Linked DNA regions of Homo sapiens: regions 2 and 3 are each linked to region 1. The links come from fine-mapping of genetic effects on gene expression. A gene starts in region 1. Each other region holds a variant in brackets. All regions are shown on one strand. Distances are from middle to middle.

Region 1 (8,067 bases):
TATGACAACATCTGTTCTCTATACTGTCAACAGTAATTCAGTTTGACCTTTTTCATACTGTGAAGAACTACCTTCTGGAAGCCCTTTCTGGCTTAAGCAGATGAGGCTGGTAGCACAGAAAAGAGAAAGCAGGTTATAAACATTTCATCCATCCTTTCTTTTTTTCTTGAGACACCGGTATCTGTCAGTCACCCAGGCTGGAGTAGAGTGCAGTGGCATAATCACGGCTCACTGTAGCCTCTAATTCCTAGGCTCAAGCAATCTTCTCGCCTCAGCCTCCAGAGTAACAGGGACTACTGGTGTGTGCCACCACACCTGGCTAATTTTTAAACTTTTTTTAGAAACAGGGTCTCGCTGTGTTCCCCACAGTGATCTCAGACTCCTGGCATCAGGCAATCCTCCTGCCTCAGCCTTCTGAATTGCTGAGATTACAGGCGTGAGCCATTGCTAATTCATCCTTTAAAATCACTAATATTTACTGAGCATCTACTGCTATATATTCATGATCGCACTCGATAGAAAACATAAAATAACAGAGACACCTTGTTAAGGTTGCAAATGTCCATTTCACTTCTTCTATAGAAAAGGTCACTGGATGTGGTGGCTCATACCTGTAATCCCAGCACTTTGGGAAGCCAAGGTGGGCAGATGGCTTGAGGTCAGGAGTTTGAGACCAGCCTGGGCAACATAATGAGACCTTGTCTCCACACACACACACAAAAAAATACAAAAATTAGCTGGGCGTGGTGGCATGTGCCTGTAGCCCCAGCTACTTAGGAAGCTGAGGTGGGAGGATCACTTGAGCCCAGGAGGCAGAGGTTGCAGTGAGCCAAGATCGTGCCACTGCACTCCAGCCTGGGCAACAGAGTGAGACCCTGTCTCCAAACAAACAAACAAAAAAACTGTAAAGGCCAACTCTACTTTTACAGTACAATCACAACTCAAGAAACCCTGGTAACTTTCAACAGCAATAAAAACAAGGTTTGTGAGCTCATGAAATGATCTAATATACAGCTTCAGCGGCCTCTTACAGGATAATGACCCCATCACCTCTTCTTCATCTGCCTGACTACTCTGATATCAAAAAAAAGGGGCTGGGCACGGTGGCTCACACCTGTAATCCCAGCACTTTGGGAGGCCAATGCAGGCAGATCATGAGGTCAAGAGATTGAGACCATCCTGGCCAACATGGTGAAACCTTGTCTCTACTAAAAATACAAAAATTAGCTGGGCATGGTGGCATATGCCTGTAGTCCCAGCTACTCGGGAGGCTGAGGCAGGAGAATTGCTTGAAGCCGGGAGGTGGAGGTTGCAGTGAGCCGACAGCACACCCCTGCACTCCAGCCTGGTGAGAGCGAGACTCTGTCTCAAAAAAAAAAAAGAAGGTTGGGAGGACAGATCCAGTTTGTCAGAGGAATTACTTGAACTAGCTGAGTCCTTCACTATATAAAAATGTTTTACTTAATATAACTATTTCAAAATTAACAGGCAAAACCCCACCAGAATGGTCTTTCAACAAACTGAAAAATTTATCAACAGTGTCTTCTTCAAGTACTCTGCAGCCTAAGTTTTAAATGAACTAGTTCTAGAATATGATGTCATGTTTATCCACCAAGTCATAAAATCTCTGTATTACCCCCTCATAGAATTTTTGTACTAGGAATTACCTTGGAGATCATTTAGTTCAATACCTTTATTTTATACACAGTGAGGTGGCGGCCCAAAGAATTCAGCTGACTTGCTTGATGCTCTTTCTTGTGTCTGACAATGTTCCTCCATACTCACAGCACTTTAGACGTTAGAAGAACCTAATGACATCTGTGGGAGGCAAAAGCTACTCGACTATTTTTACAGAATCCTGGAGCAGAAAGGCTTCTGAGATCACAGAGTTACAAATTCCTACCAAATGATTCAATTCTGTTTACATCATCCCTCAAAATCATCAAGTTTACTCAAGCATCTAAATAAGAAACAGCATATTCCATTTTTCAAAATAATCACAACTTTTGGGAATGACTCTCATCTTTTGATCCAAAAGCTATGTCCAGTAACTTCTTACTGACCCTCCCGCTAGTCTCTGGAGTTAGGAAGACTGACACAAGCAATGTAAACACTTTTCTATGAGAGTTTCCACAAGCATAAGGATAATGACCCTATGCCTACAAAGCATACACATCCCCAGCTTATTTAATCAGTTCTCCTAAGACCTGCTATCCAGGCCCCTCACTGCCACAGGTGTTATCTATGTCTTCGTAAAAAGCAGCACCCAGAAGTGGCTGGGAATGGCCAGATCAGTCCTGACTAAGTGTAAACATCACCTCTCCTGATCTGAGTGCTACATATCTGGTAATTTAGCCTACAAATAAACTGCATTCTGACAGACACGTTAGTTGGTTTAAACTGAGTCAACTACAACTATGAGGTGAATGGCATGAGTCTCTTTCACCCTGTGCTGAAGAGGCTGGATTTTATCTATAATGGGCCTCCCTTCAACTGTTTCCCTGTTATTCAAGTACTCACACAGCCTCTGACTCAGGCAGCCTCTCGACTGAAAACGGCGACTAATCCAGTCCACTCCACATCCTGGACTGTCACTCACCCCCACGCCACAGAAACCTGTTTCTTTCTCATAAGCTGTGGATAAGGTGGAATGTGTAAACTACTCCCTGATACCAAGTTTCCAGGTAAAAAGCACTGTCAAAGTTGACACTATTTTCCTTAAAACATTTAAAAACCCATACTTTTACATGCAAAATCAATATAAAATCATCAGTAACTTGGTCTTTTTTTTGGTTAAGGTTTATTGCTTCAGTCTCTTTCAAAGAATTTTTTGATACTTAAACCTTTACAGAAAAATTTATAAAGTTCCACAGATATCAACAATTCATAAATTCCAAGGGGCTTTTGGATAGTTTTTTTTAATCACTATAAAAAATTTCACTTCCCATTTAAAACAAAAAAAAACACAAAGTGCACACACGTACACGAGGCTAACTGCTCATTACATGCTCAGTCACAGGGTGACAGAGAAAAAAAAAGTCACCACCATAAAAGGAGGTCTGCACAGCCTCTCTTAAAACAACATGCCACAGTTAAAACTTACTTCAGTTTGGACAACTACTCACAGCTACTACACAGAGACCCGAACGAGTCACTGATATGTAAGTACAAGATCTTTTGCTTTTTCAACAAACTTTTTAAAGAAAAACTTTAAAAGCCTAAGTTTTAAGGTAAAAGGTAAAAAGGAAAACAATCTATTTAAGAACAAGCTACCATCACTTCTAACAAAAATTATATTAATAATGTAAGTTTACTCTCTCTGCTGACTGGTAGGTCTAGTTAGTTCTTATAAAGTTGACTGAAAGCGATGGGTCCACCAGAAATATCTTTGTCAAAAAATAGGGCTCACTTCATGTACTACTGTATAAACTCACAATGACAAAAGACAGTATCAAGCAAAACTATGCAAATAATGCCAATATTTCAGGATAACTTAGTATGAAGGAAAAGGAACAAAGTTATTTTAATATAGAATATTCCTATGCTATAGGAATTATTAGAAATATAAGATTATTTCTCAGGATAGAATCTCAGGGGTAGAATTCCTAGGGCAAAGGGTATATTTTCTAAAGCTTTAGATATAAAACGGTACTTTTTGGTCTACAAAAACATTTTACCAATTTACCCTCCCGCCAGCAAAGAGTACCAATCTTTGCTTTTTAAATGCTAAATACTACTAATTAGATAAGTGAAAAAAAAGTCTGTTGTGTGGTTTATACTTGTGTTTACTTAGACTAAACGTATCTTTTCTATGTGCCTGAGGGGAAAAAATCACAATGAATTCTATGCAGTGCTTTGGCAACATTTATGTCCAGGTTGGGAATGGTGGTAACAGAAACTTGGCAAAATAGAAGCTGTGAAGAGACTTCCTTTAAAGGGCAGTGAGGGTTTTATATATGTGTGTTTGTGTGTGTGTTGGGGGAGGGGGGCGTGGTATTTTGTTTTTTTGGTGTCACTCTGAGTACAATATAGTGTAATAAGAGCAAGGGCTCTGAAATCAGGATCAAATGAAATTTACAAGCTGTGTGGCCCCCCCACACACAAGTTACCTAATATCTGGCTTCAGCTGCTTTACCTGTAAAATGGGGAGTATTACTACTGCCAAGTCCTTACAACATTGCCTCTCATTATAAGTGCTAAAAAACTGTCTCCCATCATTCTTCTCCCATCTCTCTGGCCACTGACGTACCAGAGGGTGAATCCAACAGATATGTTATGGATATTTTACATAAAGACCCTGAATCAGGCTGGGTGTGGTGGCTCACTCCTGTAATCCCAGCACTTTGGGAGGCCGAGGCAGGCGGATCACCTGAGATCAGGAGTTCGAGACCAGCCTGGCCAACATGGTGAAACCCCATCTCTACTAAAAATATAAAAGTTAGCCAGGCACGGTGGCACTCACCTATAATCCCAGCTACTCAAGAGGGTGAGGCAGGAGAATCCCTTGAACCTGGGAGGCGGAGGTTGCAGTGAGCCGAGATTGCGCCACTGCACTCTAGCCTGGGCGACCATGCGAGACTCTGTCTCGATAGATAAATAAATAAATAAATAAATGGCCCTGAGTCTATGGATGATCACACATCTAACTGTGCTTACTGGTAGGACTGCACACTTCTTATATTTTAGCATGTTTTCTCTCTGCGGGTTCACTGCACTTTTTGGACATAAAACCACAAAGAATATGCTACTCCACAAAATGTTCACTCACATGTTTATGTATCGCGTTAGTGACAATGGTAATGATCCCTTGCATAAATTACTTTCATCTGGCTTCCTAGAGCTAATTAGTACCATGACCAGTCAGTTAATGGAATAAATATTAACTCAGGTTTCTATATGACTTTAATTCATTTATTTATTCTATAGATATTTACTAGATATCTATTGTAGGTTGGTTCTGTAGCATTCTATAGGATAAAATGTTGGATGAGATCAAGTCATCATCCTCAAGAAGCTTACATTTAAAAGAGCTTCGCACCTAATAAAGCCGTTTACAGGGATACTTTTCTCTCTGCTATGGTTAAGACCTGCTGGAGTTGTTAGGCAGCCCTGGACGTGGCCTGTGTAGAGGACGCGTGGTGTTCTCCAGTCTGGGGGGTTTATCACCTTCTCAAGAAGTCTGGGCATTGTATAAAATGAGATAACACATGTGAGAATCCTCTGAAAGCTGTGACAGTAACACAGATGGCTGTGGTGTTTTGGAAGCCCAAAGAGAAGAATAAAAATATTTTGTTAAATCTCTGCAAATATCTAAAAAGTAGTTTAAAAATCAATTAACAGCATAAAAGCCTATTCTAGATATTCACCATCTTTTTTCAATCGAAATTTCAGTCTAAATTGTTTTATTATTAAAATACTGTTAAAACAGTACTCTAAATCCATTTATAAAACCTTTACTTACTTTAAAATATGCTACAAATAAACTAATAAACTCCTTCATTTGAATCAACATCTCTTCCTCCCTGCTCCCATTCCCTTCCCCCAGTTCTCCTAGTCTCTCTTGTTCAGATAGGTATGAGTTAGTGTACGTTAAGGTTTTGAGATGCCTTCCTATTTTACTTGTTTTCTACCCATAATAGCAGATCACGTCGGAAATAGGAGATAAAATGTATTGTACTGAATGTGACTTCTGAAGCCAAACTGCCTGGGTCTGAATCCTAACATTTAACAGCTAGGTCTTTGGTCACTTAAGTGCCCTGGTGCCTCCGTTTCACCTTCTGTCAATGGACTTGTGAAAGTTCTGAGAGGATTCAATGAGTAAACACACATAGAGTGCCCAGGGCAGTGCCTGGAACACAGTCTCTGCTTAGTAATTTTAATTGATTATTATTCATCAAGGGCTTACTGGGGTGTAATAAAGAACCTTTCATTAAGGATTAAGAAAGCTGCAATGTTGCTATTCTTTAACTAATGGGTATTTATTGAATATCGATCATACATCACCTAGAGATACAAGAAATTAACACCATAGGGTCCCCACTCACAGTACTTCACAGGCTCATGGGAGACAGGGAAGAAAATCAATGATGCAGACACTATGACAGAGCACAGCACTCTCACAAATACACCCACACTGCCTTTCAGAGGATGGAGAACAGGAATGCTCCTGGGATACTTAGAACTAAGGCTTGAAGGAAAGTAAGAGCTAAGGATACAGGATAGGGGCCAGAGGACATCAAACAGAGGGAAGAATGTTACCGGGCACAGAGTTGTGAGGGAACGTGGGATATCCAAAGGTTCTAAGTAATTTTGCATGCCTGGAGCCAGGCCACGATCAGGGGAAGCTGACCAGCAACCCTCCTGAAGAAGGAATGGAGCTCAGATCATGAGGGAACTTGTGTGTCATGACACAGAGCTTGTGGTTTGCCTGGGGTTGGATGGGCCCCGTTTGAGAGCCTGGCGGGAAGCTGCTGCCGTGGCTGCGGGCAGAAGGGCGGGAATGGCACACAACAGGCAGACAGACAGACACGGATGTGCAGCAGAGCACAAGGCTGAGGCACAGGGACTGCTCGCTGACCAGAGGCAGCAGGTGAGGGAGAACACGGAGTCCTGGGCGCCTTCACGACCCCTGCCTTGAGTACCACAGTAAGATCCCTGAGCGAATGACCGAGTTGACCTGGAATTCAGTTTATCCATAAAATAATGATATTTAATGTTCCTCCCTAATTTCCATCTGATAAGAGACAAAAACAAAATTGAAACTCCTTGAACTTGAAAGAGAAAAGGTACATATTATTTCCAGAAACATTCAGGACTCAGAGGAGAAATATTATAGACACAGAGCTTCATTATAAAGAGCCTTTTTATATTATGCAGTTTTCCCACATGCTGCATCCTACAAATCATGCCAGATACAAACACAGAATATCTTTCTTACACTAAAATGAGTATTATGGTGGGATTCTTAGTTTCTTAGTTCTCTAAACATATGTCATCTTCATCTTCAATAACTTCCATACTTTTCAATATAAAAGCCACCAAAAGCCACATAGGTGGCTTTTACCAGTGAAAGGTGAAAGAAAATAACTAGAATATGTGAAACCCCAAATGTGCAAGTGGGTGTTCAACCAAAGAATTCCCGTGCTCAAGCACCTTTCCATCATTTCCAAGGAGCGCGTCTATGAAGCCGAAGTGGGTCTTTGCTGCACATCCACTGGGTTCAGGACACATATAAAGCACAAAGAGGAAACAGTAGACTGCTAAACCCTTTTTCAGTCTTGAAGATGTTTTTCTGTCTTTTTCTGTCTTGAAGAAGTTCTCTGTACTTGGTCCTATAAATGGCCTTTCGCAGATCTATTGGGAGCTGGTCTGACCCAGGATATGCAATGGGGTTGGCAGGCTGGTCACAGAGCTCCTCAATAAGGCTGCCTCTACTAAGCCCCTCGGCTAGTCACACTCCATAAGCCAGAAAGCAAGCCCCCAGGAGGCAGGGGAGGTCCCCCAAACAGACGGACCACAGTCAACTCTATGCTGAATATCATTGTTCTCAATCCTTCTAAAAAATGAATCATGGACATAAACATAGCTATCAATTTAGGACTCAAAGTTGGCTGGGAAAAAGTCACCTTACAGTGTACAAAGATGTATTTAACCAGGCCACAGAGGCATGTACTGACTACTGTGACAGTTGGTTAGCAGCGTATTATTAATAGAATGGACAATTTGACTTTACTAATGAAGCACCAGGAGGCTCTGACTATGCTGGTCACAGCTCCACAGCAGTGCAGGTTCCTCTTGCACACCAGGAATGCATGTTTCCCACTGTCCATTTTACAGGCAAACAACACCCATAATCCCTCAGATGATGGCTGTTTAGTCAATGAAAAAGGTGATGAGAAAAATCACTAGTTGAATGCTAGGACCCAGTATGTGTGACACTGGGCCAAATTTAGATGCCCCTGTTTGAACAAGAAGGCGTTTTCAAATAATTGACAAATACTTATCAAACCAGGTAACCAGAGGAAGAAGTAATGAATGATTTCTTTCTTCCCTGGAGCAGGTTTGTTC
Region 2 (8,067 bases), 70 kb before region 1:
CTCACAGCCGTGCAAGTTAGCCAAGTGGCCCCTGCTGTCCTTTCTTTATGTAGTTTCAGAGGTTCACCATATAGACAGTAAGAACTGGAGCAAAAACTAGCAGCACAGAGAACAGTTGTCTGTAGGGCTCTTTGGTGGACACTAACAATTACTGCTGTGGCTCTCACTATTCCTCTGCTCAGAGAAGCCCAGCACGCCCAGTCCCCACACATCTCATTACGGTCTCTCCTGGGAAAGCTTACTCGGCATGTGAAGCATCAACTCCTGTGCTCAAATTACAGAAAGACGAAATTGAGGCCTGCGCAGACGTGCAGTCAGGTAAGCAAAACACACGTTAAGCATTCCTAATCTGAAAATTCAAAATCGAAAATGCTCCAGAATTTGAAACTTTTTGAGTACCAACATGGCAGTACAAATGGCAAGTTCCACACCTGACCTCATGTGATGGGCTGCAGTCAAAATGCAGGCCACAACATGTAGTTTATTCAGTGTCTCCAAGGGAAAAGAGACCCTCTCACCCTCCTTCAGCTGTGACATGCCTTTTCTGCACATGCCCCGACTCCCCCACGCAAGCACATGCCAGTGGGCAGGTTCCCCACAATGACCTGCATGGGGCCAAAACCCACGTGCGTCACTCACTGTGCTTTTTTGCTTACTTTCTGCTCTGTGTTATAAAAATGTTGTTAAAATATCTAAAAGGTGTGCAGATACCCTCTGGGTAACAGTGATAAGAAAAAGATTTATGTTTATCTATAGCACAGAAAGTCAAGCTGTTGGAGAAAGTGGAGAGCAGTGTAAGTGTGAAACGTCTTACAGGAGAGTATGGTGTTGGAGTGACCACCATATAGGATCTGAAGAAACAGAAGGATAAACTGTTGAAGTTCTGTGCTAAAAGTGATAAACAGAAATTAATGAAAAATAGAGAAACACTGCATAAAGCTAAAAATGAAGATCCTGATCATGTACCGAGGATGGATCCCTTGGTGTTGCAGTGAACACCTGCCACTTAATGCTATGTGGGTCAGGAAACAAGCAAGGATCTATCAGGATGAGGAACTGAAAATGAAAAGGAACTATGAATATTCAACATGTTGGCTGCAGAAATTTAAGAAAAAACATGAAACCAAATTTTTTAATGTGGTGACAAAGCATCATGAAGCAGCAAAGAAATTCATTGGTGAGTTTGCCAAGGTCATTGCTGACAAAAATCTGATGCCAGAACAAGTCTATAATGCTGATGGAACATCACTGTTTTGGTTTTATTGCTCCAGAAAGACACAACTACAGCTAATGAGACAGCCCCTCCAGGAACTGAGGACATCAAGGGCAGAACAACTTTGCTGGGATGTGCTAATGCAGCAGGCATGCATAAGCGTAAACTTGCATGACAGGCAAAAGTTTGTGTCCTTGCTGTTTTCAAGCAGCGAATTTCTTACCAGACCATTATTATGCTAACAAAAAGGCATGTTTAACTAGGGATATCTTTTCTGATTGGTCTCACAAACATTTTGGACCTGTGGCTTGTGCTCACTGCAGGGAAGCTGGGCTGGATGATGACTGAAATATTTTGTTATACCTTGACAACTTTTCTGTTCATCCTCCAGCTGACATCTCATCAAAAATCATGTTTATGCCATGTACTTTTCCCCAAATGTGACTCCATTAATTCAGCCATGTGGCCAAGGTATTCTTAGATCAATGAAGGATAAATATAAAAGTACCTTCTTGAACAACATGCTAGCAACAAATGAATGGGTATGGAAGATTTTCAACAGGCGTTTAGCGTGAAGGATGCCACACATGCTGTTGCCAATGCATGGAACACAGTGACTGAGAACACAGCTATGCAAGCCTGACACAACCTCTGGCCTGTGCTATGTTCAGTGATGATGACGAACAAGGTGGTGACTTTGAAGGATTCCACATGTCAAATGAGGATAAAATGATGCCTGACCTCCTAACAGGTAAAAAATATACCTTCGAGTCTGTCAGTAAGCCAGAAGAAGTGGATATTGAAGTTTTTATTTTTTATTTTATTTTTGAGACAGAGTCTTGCTCAGTCACCCAGGTTGGAGTGCAGTGATGTGATCTCGGCTCACTGCAACCTCCACCTCCTGGGTTCAAGCCATTCTCCTGCCTCAGCCTCCCAAGTAGCTGGGACTACAGGCATGTGCCACCATGCCTGGCTAATTTTTGTGTTTTTAGTAGAGATGGGGTTTCACTATGTTGGCCAGGCTGGTCTCGAACTCCTGACCTCAAGTGATCTGCCCACCTCGGCCTCCCAACTTGCTGGAATTACAGGCATGAGCCACTGAGCCCAGCCAGATATTGAAGTTTTTAATATCGATAAGGGGGCTCCAGCTGTTCATTAACTGACCCATGGTGAAATAGCTGAGATGGTTCTGAGTCAAGGTGACTGTGACAACAGTGATGATGGAGATGATGCTAACGCTGCAGAAAAAGTGTCTACAGACGACACAGAGAAAATATGTGATGGGCTTACTGAAGGACTAGAGCAGCATGCATTTTGGATAAGGGATACTCAACTTGTAGGGACAGAAAACCAGGTTCATGCTTCCGTGAAATAAAAATGCAGGGGAAGCTGCATGCTGTCTTAGGTCTGACTCCAGCGCAGGGTGGCAGGGAGACCCGAGCTTTGGAGTTGGCCCCGTGTGACCACATGCAGGGGACCAGGCTCTGACTCTCTGTTTCCTCGCAGTTTGGGAGATGAGAGGGATGCATGTGAGAAGCCCAGAACAGTGACGGGCACATGACCAGCGCTCAATAAACATGACCTCTCAGGACCACTATTCTCCTATGGAGGGCAGCGGGGCCAGGTGTGTGGTGGGCCCTAAAGAAGTCAGAAAGACAGGAACAATCTTTTTAAATGGTGAGCATAACATTCTAACAAAAAGACTGTGTTGTTCTAAAATACACTTTATGTATTTATAAAGTTTAGCAAATACACAACTCTGATGACTATATAAATAATGGTATTATAGATGGTCAGCCCATCTCTCTCCCTATCGAAAGCACCACATTTTAGCCACAACACACATTAACTCACACTGAAACCCTGGACTACTTCATTTTCTCTGCAGGCTGCTTCCTGTCTCTGTAGTCCAGCTACTGGGATGAGAAGCATCAGAACTCACCATGAGCACCTGATCCGATCTAACATCCACAGGAAGAGAAAGTTTCAATGTAAAATCTCCTGATGTCAAGTTGTTAAAGTACAGGAATGAATGTTTACAGGTCTCCTCTGCTCTAAGGACTGGCACTAGGTACTTGCATGAGTTGGGTACTGGGTTAGGGCCTTGCATGGATCTGGTCTCCCTCATAGACGGTGAGCTCCCTTGAGGGCTGGCACCAGGCCTGGCTTGCTTCCCCCCAACACAGAGCCTGACACACCCGGTGCCCAGCACCAGTTAGAGAAGGCTGAATGTGAAGATCAAAAGTGACCAATAAACATGTGGAGGACAAAATGAGAATGCTGGTAGGACACTGAGACTCTGGAAAAGACTGTGCTAGGATAGACACTTGTTCTGGCGTGAGTGGAGGCAATGGTGAGGCGAGGCGAGGCGAGGCACGGCGCTGCATACTGCAACTTCGTCAGTGTTGGCTTCATGGGCTTGCAGTCATTCATTGGTCTGGAAAATTTTAAAAATGTCTCAAAGAAATTTTCTAAAAAGGTGTTCTTTCAACATTCCCTCTCCATCTCAGAGCACAGCGAGTACCTTCCTCCTGCTCAGGCATCACAAGAAGTTTCTGCCTAAAAATCCTCACCACAAAATATCAGATTAGAGTGCAGCTTGGTTTCTAGCCCCCAAATCGAAATGATTCCTTCCTCTAACTTCATTGAGAAGCCAGCTCTAGTTGGGTTCGCCTCCAGCATGCTTTGCTTTCCTGTCTTCCACATCTACTTATTTCTTATTTCTAGACACTAACATTCCCCAAATGTAACATCCAGAGCCTGCTTTCCGTAACAGGAAACCTGACTTCCAGAGGTGAGGAGCAGAGATAAGGCTACTCAGAGGACACCAAGGTGCAGCTGGTGCTGTGGCAATGGCAAACTCCAGCTCCGCCCTCACGGGGATGAAGACCCACTCTGGAGGTGTCCAGGGTGCCCCACCAGAGCCCCCACAGGGATGAAGACCCTCTTGGAGGTGTCCAGGGTGCCCCAGTGGAGCAAGGTGTGACTCCATCAGTTGCCTTTCGTCACGAGCTTCTGAACCACAGGCGTCAGCAGCCCTTCACCAGCCCTGGTGTGACACTTCCACATGGCTGGCTGACCAAGGCAGGGGAGCATGACAGAAATAGGCGTTGCCACAAGAGCACTGTCACTGTCACCTGACAATGTTCCAAAGGAGAGCAAGATGGAATACATTCCCTAATAATGTGCTTTTCAGAGAACCCACTGAATGAGGAAAACACCCTAGAGATGGAAATAAATCTGTACCAGTTTCTCTTTCCTTATTTTTTATTTTTAAACATCTATGATTGGGATGTGTGTGCCTACTACCTCAAGATAATTCTCATTTAAGAAAATGCCAGCCTGGGCAACCCTTGTCTCTACCAAAAAAAAAAAAAAAAAAAATTAGCTGGGCTTGGTGGCATGTGCCTGTAGTCCCAGTTACTCAGGAGGCAGAGTTGGGAGGATGGCTTGAACCCAGGAGGTCGAGGTTGCGGTGAGCCATGATAGCACCACTGCACTCCAGCTTGGGATACAGAGCAAGACCATGTCTCAAAAAAAAAAAAAAAAAA[AAG/G]GGAAAAAGGAAAAGAGAAAAGAAAATAAATGAAATCCCACTTTGGTATTTTACTTGCAATTCAACTCCTCTTTGACATAAGTAAAATGGGACATTCATTCCAATGAGATTTCTAGCAACTCCCCTCAGTGAAAGACTCCTTTTGGTTTATTCAAACTAGAGTGTGGTTTTCTTTAACTTCCCTTTTAGCTAAGTGCGTCAAAAACAAATGTTTTTTTTGGGTTTTTACTTCCCATATTCTGACGCTTGCAGAAAGCGATGCCCACCTGAAGACGGCCCCCACCCGATCCTGAGCTCACACTGGGTGCAGGGTAGCATGCACACCCTGTTGGGGGAGCCCAGATGTGCTGGGCCTGCCTCGCCCACTGCTGTCATAGCAACTGGCACCGGTTACCTGTTGGCACCAGCTGCCCACCCCCATGCTGACGCATGGCCGAGACCCTTGCAAGGCAGTGCAGCCCCCACCCCCCTCTCCCTGTCTGACCACTCTCTTCCTTGGGAGAACTGCAGATCCCCCCTCCTTTCACATCTCTTGGTTGAACTCAGGTTTCTGGTTATTACAGACCCTGCCAGCGTTCTGGGCTGCTCTGAGACCAACTGTGTCTAGAGCCTCGTCAGGGTCTTGTATGGAGCAGGTCTTTAGTTAAGGCTGGCTGAGCTCCTTTGTGTACATCTCTCAGAGCACCCAGCAGAATGAGACACCCCACAAAAGTTGGTTACTATTTGAGTACCATCTAGTATTTCATTGTAACACATCTAACTTTGGGATCTTGTTAGAAAACGTATTTCCAATCTACTAGAGCAAGCAATGGAAAAACCTGGCATAATACCACTCTCTAGCACATTTTTTATGTGAAAACAAGAGTTCTGAAAGGGAAGTTTACTGGCCACACCTTCGTGTTCAACCCTTCTCCGACCGATGCTGGGGCACCTGTGTGTATCAGGCTTTTCATAGGGTAGCAAACAAGGCAGACATGGCCCCAGCCCTCAGGAAGCTCGCTGTCCACAGGGAGACCAGACGCCATGGGAGGCTAACCCAATACCCAATGTGCTGCCATGCTTGGCTACTCAGAGCAGAAGCACGAGATGTGTCTCAAAACCAATAAATATTAGAGCCCTGCTTTCAGAAGGTGAGCATTTTAGGAGTTTCGGTGGGTTTTCTGGAGACAGTGGTAAGGATTCCTGAGATGAGAAGAGAGGAGACAGCCTCATTAAGATTTAGATTCTCTAATACTAAATACATTTTGCTATTTATCAGCTAAGAGTGAAAGCACCTTGTGGGTTTAAAGCCATTCTCTCTACTTGGGCTAATGGATATCTCAGAGACATAAACAGAATCCACACGACGTGTCATGTGAATTGACCAAAATTATGGGACGCCATTGTTTTGGGCTCCAACAAACCAGAAGACCAAACTAAATGGAGTCACTCATGCTAAATGCCACACAATCAAATTGAAACTTTAAGGAAGCAGACAGATCCCAAAACAAGAAGACCTGCTTTTTCTAAAAATAGGAGATCCCAGACTACACAAGTCAGCATAATAAGGAACTCCCCTCTGCTTTAACCCTTAAAAAAAAAGCAACCTGAAGTAACTCAATGTTAACCTATCAGTTATTTTTCTATTGCTCTGTTTCCTTCTTACAAAATGCACTGTTCCAGTACTGCCTGGCGGGAGCTCACATTCTGTTTTGTAGAATGGAGGCTGCACTAATTCATAAGTTGCAAATAAAAGCCAAATAGATCTGTCACTAAATTTGCTGTAATTCTGTCGTTTGACATGCATTATAAATGTATTATTAATATTAATGCACCAAATGGTAACATCTCTTGTCTGGGCAGTTGCACCATGTTTCCTGGGCCTGGATAGAGAAAATTATAAGATTATAACCTGCCCCCTCCTCTGTGTCCAGTCCATCCTCTTGGGAAACCCAATGATGGTGTTTCTTGTGTAAGATCCCGCATGGTTCCTTGGTGTCTAGAGTATAACCACATGCCACACATCAGACCCTTGGCGAGCCTGTCTGGCCTCCTTTCTGTCCAGCTTCTAGAATCCCAAGAAGTGCCCCGGCCCTCCAGTCCCCTCTACTCCAGCCCACCCATCCGTGGCTCCCCACCTCCCATGTACTTGTCTTCAGGCCCCTCCTCTGCAACACCACTGCCCTGACGGCCTTTCTTGGCCTCAGCAGCACCCGAACACTTCCACAAGCTCTTTGTCCACCTGTTTCCCTGCCCTGGGCTCACAGCTCCTCAGGGCAGGACATTCCGCCTTATCCATCTTAGTGTTTTCAGAATTCAGCACAGCGCTTAGCCCCGGTGCAGAGCAGACAGCTGGTCACTGTCAGCTAAAGGAAAGAAAGACATGAATCGAAGAGAGGAAGCTGAAATTTGCTCATCTTCCTTTTGTTAAATCCCAGCTTTGGTCTAGTCTTATTTAACTTTCTTGTCTGATTTTACCTAACAGTCATTTTCTAAGCTTTGGGAGGGTCAGAAGAGATACACTTGATGAGTTTTTCCCCCTTTGGTTTTAAAAAAATCAGAAGCAAATATGAGAAAAATTTAATCATTTGTTAATTTTGAGTATGGGTCATAGTAGTATAAAGATACCTGTTTAAAAAAAAAAAAAAAAACAATAAAAAAGAGAGAGATGGAATAATGGATATACTTATTATTATTATTTTGAGACAGAGTCTTGCTCTGTCACCCAGGCTGGAGTGCAGTGGCGTGATCTCAGCTCACTGCAAGCTCTGCCTCTCGGGTTCACACCATTCTCCTGTCCTCAGCCTCCCAAGTAGGTGGGACTACAGGCGCCCGTCACCATGCCCGGCTAATTTTTATTTTTTTATTTTTTAGTAGGGACAGGGTTTCACCATGCTAGCCGGGATGGTCTCGATCTCCTGACCTCGTGATCCGTCCGCCTCAGCCTCCCAAAGTGCTGGGATCACAGGTGTGGGCCACCGCGCCCGGCCTGGATACACTTATTTCTAAGATAGCAGACATTGAGCGTATTTGATTACTCGAAGGAGTTTTATCAAGTGGTCTTTGGCTTGGCATTTTTGCTGTTGTTGTTGACAAACAGTTTCTATTTATCTTCTTCTTCCTCCTCCTCCTCTTTCTTGTCTACCTTTCTCTGGGCAACCCTGGCAGGACCTTCTTGCCACCCATTTTCCCTTTAGACTCAGAGCCGGTGACGCCACCTGTCTTTCTCCAGCAGCTTCCCCACCTTGGTGTCCTAAGGCTGCTTCTCACGGTCACTGATTCCACAGCTCACCAAGCTTGTCTACCCATCTCCAAAAGCAAT
Region 3 (8,067 bases), 88 kb before region 1:
GTCACACGGGGGTGGACAGCAGAGCTGAGATTCAAAGCCACGCCTGATGGCAAAGCCCATGTGCAAATTCACGCTGGTCACAAAAGGGCTGTGAGAGCAGACCCCAAGCTCATGACAAGATCAGCGTGACCCATGGTCAGCCCCCCTGCACCCCTGGGTTTCCACAGAACTCATCTATGGCAGCCTGCCCTGGGACACTGATTGCTTTAGGTTCGTCCTAGACAAAGCTCTTCAAGCTTTCATGCTTTAATGTGGACACAGGCATCACCTGGGGTCTTGTTAAGATGCAGCTTCTTCTCCAGTCAGTCTGGGCTGGGGCCTGAGAGTCTGCATGTCTAAGCTCTCAGGGGACACTGATGCTGCTGGTCCAGGGGTTGTGTTTGAGCAGTGACGGCTCAGAAGACGCCACATTCAGAGGTGGCGGGACCTGTTTCCCTCCTGGCTTTCTTTCCTTATCAAACCGTTGGTCCTCAACTTTGGCTGCACATGAGAATCGTCGGGGGACATTTAAAAAATCCTGATGCCCACTTGGGTCCCATCCCCAGAGATGTGATGTAATTGCTGTGGGTGTGGCTGGTGTTAGGATTTTCCAAAGGTCTCCAGTGATTCTGATGTGTGGCCTATTCTGAGAACCAGAGCACTAAAGAAAAGAAGAGATTTAAGAGACATTTCAAAGGCGAAATCAAGAGAGGAGGCCCGCCTGTGGTTTTTTTTTTGGAAAAATAAAGTGAGTGATTATATATGAGAGGTCTCCAGAGAAACAGAAGCAATGTGACACACACACAACGCACACACAGACACACACAGGCACACGCACACATATGTGTGTGTGTGTTTGCACCATAGGAGTGGTACCTGGCAAATCTGAAATCCACAAGGGAGGCCAGGCAAGCCGGAGACTCGAGCAGAACTTCTATATTGTGGGATTGAGGTAGAATTGCTTCTTCTCCAGAAAACTCAGTCTTTGCTCTTAATGCCTTCAGCTGGTGGGGTGAGGCCCACCTTCCCCCTCTTATGGAGGGTAATCAGCTCTACCCAAAGTCTACTGATTTAAATGTTAACCTCATCTAAATAATACCTTCCCCACGACATTTACAGCAGTGTTTGACCAAACAGCTGGGCACCATAGCCTAGCCAAGGTGACACACAAAATGAACCATCACAGGTGACTTCAAGGTCAAATGTCTATGGGAATGTGAATAAAAATAGGAATGATTGGTGGGGAAGTGGGTTTGGGGACAATGTGAGTGAGTCTGATAGGCCAGGTCCAGGGCCCCTTTTTGAAGACCTTTGCCAATACCTGACTCCGGCCCACTGTGGTAGTTGGTTCGAGCTGCTGTAACAAAGTGCTGTGAACTGTGAGGCTGAAACACAATGGAAACTTCTTGTCCCACAGTTCTGGAGGCTGGAAGTCTGAGATACGGCCCTGGTGGGGCTGGTTCCTTCTGGGGGCTGTTAGGGAGAACTTACCATTCCTCCCCAGGCTGCTGGTTCTTGCTGGAGCTCTTTGACGTTTCCAACCTGGCAGATCCATCGCTCCAGCCTCTGCCGTCATCTTCCTGTGGCCTTCTCCCCCTCTGTCTCTGCCTTCACCTGGTGTTTCTCTCCTCGTATAAGGACACCAGTCACGTTGGGTTAGGCCCACCTTAATGACCTCATCTTGGCTTGATTACATCTACAAAGACCCTATTTAAGAACATACAGATGCCAGGGGTTAGGACTTCATCATATCTTTTGGGGGGACTCGATTCAGCCCACAACACCCACCCATTTCTGAACACCCCTCTTTCCAGACACTCTCCCTTTCTCTGAGTCCCATCTAATCTCCCACTTCAAGCCCCCACACACTGCCTCAGAGCCCGACTGCAAAGGTGAGGCTTGGAGAAGGAATGAGAGGGGTCTCTTTTAAACATTAGTTGCTTTAAAAAAAAAAAGTTTAACTTGTATGCTTTGTTTTTCAGACCCTATCAAAATAATCTCGTGTCAAAATGGAAGCATGAGAGGGACCACTTCTAAGGGTTTCCTCAGCCCACAGGATCAGGACAGAGGCAGGGCACAGGCCAGGAGAAGCCCTGTCAGCCAGGGCTCTACATTGCTCTACAGTAATGAGGCCTTGAACCCTGTTCCCTGGGGACGGACAGTGACCACCCAACCAGAATGTCCAAGGATTTCACCACTGGCTGGAGGATGGTGTAATGACACCTAAGAATTGTAATCACTTGACATTTTAAGGAGGAAGAACAGAAAGTTTCGTACATCATATTTGTAGATGCTCACATATTCCGATGGGCTTTTGGCTTTCTCCAAAAAGCACATTTCCACCGAGAGTCCCACTTCCTGGGCACTGCTGCACACCGCAGGTAACCACTGTCCAGCTTTCACTGCGGTTCTCACTTCGCCAAGTGACAGCATACGGGATGGCACAGAGACTAAGAAGTTCCCCTGGCCTGTGATGGTTGTGGGCAGCCAGGCTTGGGGCAGGCCGTGCCACCTGAGGGCACAGCAACCCTATAGCACATGGGTCAGACCACACCTCAGGCAACGCGAGTGCCTCATGGTATGGGCGCCCTGTTCCACTATAATTGTAGAAATCTGGGAAGTTACATTTTCTAATGCCAAAGGCCAACTTCACCTTCTGAGGCTTGGATCTGTGGATCCTAAGGAGTCTTGACACATGGTCTGCTGAGCTCTGTGATTAGCAGGACAGGCAGCGGGGGAGCTGGTCTCAGGGGGTGAGGAGCCCGTGTGTGTGTGTGTGTGTGTGTGTGTGTGTGCAGTAACACCTAATATAAGCCTCTTGGGTAGGTTGCAATAAGGTGTAAAATGCTATAAATTGACCAAGGTAGAACATTGCCAGAACTTCAGTCCCAGGCTGACTCAGCTCAATCCCCGCGTATAAAGGACTGCTCTCTGAGACATGGGAGAGGATGCGTGCACCAAGGGCAGGGCGGGGACCTTCTTCATCTCTAGTAATTTATGATTTTGTCTCTAGGCCAATACTCATCTTCCACATTCATTCCCACATTCACCACGTGTGGTTCTGGGTGTTGGGGACACAGTGGGTAGACGTGGTCTCCAGCCTCATGGCCCAGGTAGGCCAGCAGGGGACATACAGAATCAGACAATTACAACGTAACATGTGAAGTGTGTTAGGTGCTGGGTGGAGACTGACGTCGGAGAAGGGGTTAGGGAAACTCTGGGAGAGCTCCCGAGTTTGGGGTTGGGGGACTGGATTGAGGGTGCTGTCACTTCCTGAGATAGGGAGCGTGGGGTCAGATGAAGTTTGAGGGTGGAAGACGTGGGCTTAGGAGCCCTAGGACAGGCACATGGAGGTGTCCAGTATAAAGTGGGACATACGAGGTGTGCAGTCTGGAAGAGCGATTTAGGGTGAGGGTACGGGTTTGGGAGGGGTGAGGTGGACGACAGTCCCAGGGAGAGTTGAGGGGCTTCTCTAAACTGTAGGCTTTATTGTTTCTCAGGTATGATGAGGCCAACAGATCAGCGGCCGAGCACCATTGAAAAGACAGTTCGTTACTCACAGCTCCCAAGGAGAGGGGCACACTCTGCC[A/G]CCCAGGCCAGCCAGGGGAGAACCAGGGCTGGTCAGCAGGCAGAGGGAGGGTCAGGAGAGCGTGGGCAAGACCTTGAATGTGGTTTCCACGAGAAGCATCAACGGGAGGGGGGCATGCAGGCTCTGGGGCAGAGGGGCTGTCCTTAGGGGCCTGGTACCTGGTACTGCTTGACAAGGGCAGGGGCATAGTGGCCTGGAGTGTGAGAGCCCCAGACAGGTGGTGGAGGTCGGGGGTGCAGGCATTGGGTTGGCTGCCTTGCCTCTGAACAGTGTGCTCCCTTCAGGCCTTTTTCTGTCTCTAGGGATTGGCTGGCCCCGGGGTACAGGGTTTGTCTCTCCAGGGTCAGCAAGGCCCCAAGATGTGAAAGCATTGGAATGCAGAGAGTAAAAAGCCCTGGCTAACACGGAGGGCTAGAAAGGACCCAGGAGCACCAACATTCATGGGGAGGGAAGAGGCTGAGGAAGCTGCGGGAGAGACAGAGAGGCGGTGGTGTGGGAGCCAGGACAGGAGGCCGCTGCTCCAGCCATGGAGCCGAGGGGGTTACCAGCAGCCCGAGAGCGGGCCATAGCATCCAGCCAAAAACTGGCCATTGAGGATGGAGGCCAGGTGTTCGGGAGCTGAGAGAATGGGGACAGTGCATGTCACAACTTGTTTCAAGGAATTTGTCGTTAAAGAAATACCCTAGACTGGGTAATTAATAAAGGAAAGAGGTGTAATTGACTCACAGTTCTGCATGGCTGGGAGGCCTCAGGAAACTTACAATCATGACAGAAAGTGAAGGGGAAGCAGGCACCTTCTTCACAAGGCAGCAGGAGAGAGGAGTGAGGAGCGAAGGGGGAAGAGCCCCTTATAAAACCATTAGCTCTTGTGAGAACTCACTATCATGAGAACAGCATGGGGGAACCGCCCCCATGATCCGGTCACCTCCCACCAGGTCTCTCCCTAGACACATGGGGATTATGGGGATTACAATTTTCTTTCTTTCTTTTTTTTTTTTTGAGATGGAGTTTTGCTCTTCTTGCCCAGGCTGGAGTGCAATGGCGTGATCTCGGCTCACCACAACCTCCGCCTCCCGGGTTCAAGTGATTCTCTTGCCTCAGCCTCCCAAGTAGCTGGGATTATAGGCATGCACCACCATGCCTGGCTAATTTTGTAGTTTTAGTAGAGATGGGGTTTCTCTATGTTGGTCAGGCTGGTCTCGAACTCCTGACCTCAGCTGATCTGCGCAGCTTGGCCTCCCAAAGTGCTGGGATTACAGGTGTGAGCCACCACACCCTGCCCGGGGATTATAATTTTCAAGATGAGATTTAGGTGGGGACAAAGCCAAAGCATATCATTGTCCTTTTTCTTTTCTTTTTTTTTTTTTTTTGTAACCAGAGAAATTGCTAGGGAAGTGTCAGTAATAAGGGCAAAGGGGGAGATTCAGAGGAGGAAGGAGGAGATGATGGACAGAGGGCTCCTGAAGCACCCCTTTTAAACACAAGCCTTTTTTCAGGGGAGAGGAGGTGGTGGGCGCAGAGACAATTGCACCGCTGGCAAGTGCCTGGGGAGGGCGGCGCCTCTGTCCTCCTGAATCTTTTCCTGCTTGGCAGGAACATTTCCCAAGGCCAGCCAATTAAAGGTATTTCAAAATCTCTATTATTCACTTTCAAAATCAGACCCTAGCTTATTATTTGTTGGTATTTCCAGTGGTACTAAGAATATGCCACGAACTCAGCATTCAACAGTTTAGGAAACAGAGCCGCACTCCCCATCTCCCTCGCACCCATGGGAGCTCTCCAGGCGGGTGGAGCTGAGCAGGGCGTCTTCCCATCTTACAGGAAGGCCCTGACATCCAAACCACACAGCCTCGGGGGACAGGAGGGGCTCTGCCTAGAGTCCCAGTGCATTAGATGGCTGGATTATAAGAGGTCTGGAAAGTGAAGGCTGCCCCTTTCTCTTCATTCATCTCTGTGGCCTATTGGGTGACGGTCAGCCGCAGTGTCCTTACTTCTCCCCTCGAGGTAGAAACCTTGAACAGGAGGGATAAGGTTTGGGAGCAAACAGGAATCATCTGGAAAGTGTGAGAATCCGTGGGTAAACACCGAGGAAAAGCTGTGCCCTCTCCCAGGCCGCAGCAGGGGCTGGAAACAGAGCCTTCACATGAGAAGAGAGGAGTGGTGTCAGAGGCTCCCCCAGACGGGAGTCTCCCCGACTCTCGGTGCTCAAGCTCCAGGCTGGAATCCCTTGCACCACGCTGCCTGGTCTACACCCCGTCCACCCAGCTCCAGGGTTCTGGAGCTCTCCCGGGGAGAAGGGGTGCACAAGTGTATAGGAATCTCTGGAAGAAGTTGGCAAATAATCAAAAGAGGGGAGGGAATATATCTTTGGAGAATTTCAACTTTTGATTGAATACGTCATAATACAGAAGAGTACATAAAGGAGGTATGTAGGACATTTAAAAACCAGTAAAACAGACACCCTGTACCTCCACCCAGTTTCAGAAATTCAAACTACTGGAGCTTCTGAAGCCCTGGGGTGCCCTGCCCCAGCCCTACCCACTGTCTTCCCCTGCCCCCAAGGCAACTGTATGCTGATTTGCTTTTATCATTTTGAAGTAGTTCTGAGCTCTGAATTTAGAAATTTCGTAATTTGAAATGGCCATTCACATAATCAGGAATAAGACAGGCTAGGAGTGAGTGCTTGGCTTTATTCTTTTTTTTGAGACAGAGTCTCGCTCTGTCGCCCAGGCTGGAGTGCAGTGGCGCTATCTGCAACATCTGCCTCCTGGGTTCAAGCAATTCTCCTGCCTCAGCCTCTCAAGTAGTTGGGATTACAGGTGCCACAACCACACCTGGCTAATTTTTGTATTTTTAGTAGAGATGCAGTTTCACCATGTTAGTCAGGCTGGTCTCGAACTTCTGACCTCCAGTGATCTACCCACCTCGGCCTCCCAAAGTGCTGGGATTACAGGCGTGAGCCACCACACTTGGCCGCTTTATTCTTTTTTAATTAAAAAAAAATTAAATAACCAGCCACGGTTGGGTTTGCATTTGGGTGATCTCCAAGTAGGAGCCTCATCACGTCTCCCCAGGGCTGGAGAAGGGTTTGCCTTGGCTGCTCTCACTCTGTTAAGGGGGTTGGTTTTTTTGAAGTATTTGCTAGACTTTTTATGTTTAAGCAAAATAAATGCACCCCTCCTTTAAACAGGCCTTAGTGTTAGTATCACATTCATCTTTGTGCACATTTAAGTACAGTAGGACCTGCCTGCTGAGAGGAGGCAACCTGCCCTCCAAAGAGACTGCCTATTTTGCCAAAGATCTCTGTGGTCCCGACAGCTTTGTTCATATGAAAAACTGGGGTCAGCCATATGTTACATGAATGTGGGTTTTACAAAATCTGCATCGATAGTTCTAGGCTGATCAGCTTCCGGATATAATATGGTGCTTCTGTTTAACCTCCTATTAGCATTGTATGATAGGCACCCCGTACACAGAACTGCCAAGATAGCAAAAGAGCAAAACTGGCTATGGCCCCGTGAAGCACCGAAAGCCTTGTTGAACAGAAAAGTCCATTACGTGGGCTCCTATATGATTGTCTAGGGGCAGGGGAAGGCAGAGGATGGCGGGAGCTTCTCCCACCCGGGAGCAGAGCCGTCTCTGATGCGGCAGGGCTGATCGGAAGGGGAAGAAGTGGCTTCCCTGGGCCCCCAAGGAGCAAGAAGCCAGTCCCTGGGGCCCGTTGCCACCACCTCCCAGGGCCCTCGCCTTTGGTGTTCCCAGAGCCTCTGGCAACTCCTCCCTTTACAGTGGGCCGGTGAACACACTGGATGGAAGCGAGGGAAGCTCTCCCAGGCCTTCCCTGACATCCGCAGTCTCCATGCTTCACTGGGCCTGGGTCTGTCTTTGGTGGATGCAAAGTGGTGTGCAGAGGCTCCATGGCTGTACATCATCTGGGGAGAGAAACCAACAGCAAACCCAGCTTTCTGCTGAGGCTCCACCTGGCCACATTTGCGAAGGCGAATTGTCTTCAAGGTGAGTTGAATCTCAGGAGACACTGTGTCACCACCAGCCCACTTTAGCATGTCACGGGGCCACCATCCTTCCTCAGTGGCAGGAGAGCACCTTTGATTACAAGGCCCGAGTCTCCCATTCTGTCTGTGGTGACAGCCAGGTGGACATGGCTTCAGGCAGATGTAGTGGGTTTGGAAGAAAACTCTGGCCCCAGGGGAGAATCGGGCCTGAGTTTCGCTGCCACATCCCTCTGGGTTCCCTTCTTGCGCAGACAGCAAGGAGGGCTGGCCTGAGAGGAGCCATGGGTGCTGCTGGGCATGGCGTGGGTGGGATGAGGGAGCAGCACAGTCCCAAGAGGAATTTGAGGGCCAACCCTGGGGACCTTCTTGCTCTCCTCCCACTGCCCAGGTTGAGGGGAGGCCCGAAGCAGCCAGGGGAGGGCTGAGGACAGGCCTGGCCCAGGGAGCTGACTTTGCCTCAAGTCCATCATGGCCCTCGGGATCCCG

The links. PIP is the estimated chance that this variant, and not a neighbour inherited with it, causes the effect. A credible set is the group of variants that fine-mapping cannot tell apart.
Region 2: its variant is the best candidate, but not a certain one, in a credible set for the expression of GPR183 in whole blood (INTERVAL, PIP 0.51).
Region 3: its variant is the best candidate, but not a certain one, in a credible set for the expression of GPR183 in whole blood (INTERVAL, PIP 0.61).

The regions. Positions count from the first base shown.
Region 1 is chr13:99,302,434-99,310,500 of GRCh38, reverse strand. It overlaps GPR183 (G protein-coupled receptor 183), which reads left to right and starts at 3,102. Exons shown (of 2, transcript NM_004951.5): 1 at 3,102-3,161. The region is part of intron 4 of UBAC2 (UBA domain containing 2); the gene reads right to left. RefSeq lists enhancers at 5,908-6,454, 6,455-7,003.
Region 2 is chr13:99,372,501-99,380,567 of GRCh38, reverse strand. The region is part of intron 8 of UBAC2 (UBA domain containing 2); the gene reads right to left. It also overlaps the pseudogene HMGB3P4. Among named protein-coding and RNA genes, the nearest start is that of MIR623, 20 kb to the right of the region's middle. RefSeq lists an enhancer at 4,691-4,760. The variant AAG/G (reference allele first, on the strand shown) is at 4,765.
Region 3 is chr13:99,389,993-99,398,059 of GRCh38, reverse strand. No RefSeq gene overlaps it. Among named protein-coding and RNA genes, the nearest start is that of MIR623, 38 kb to the right of the region's middle. The variant A/G (reference allele first, on the strand shown) is at 3,569.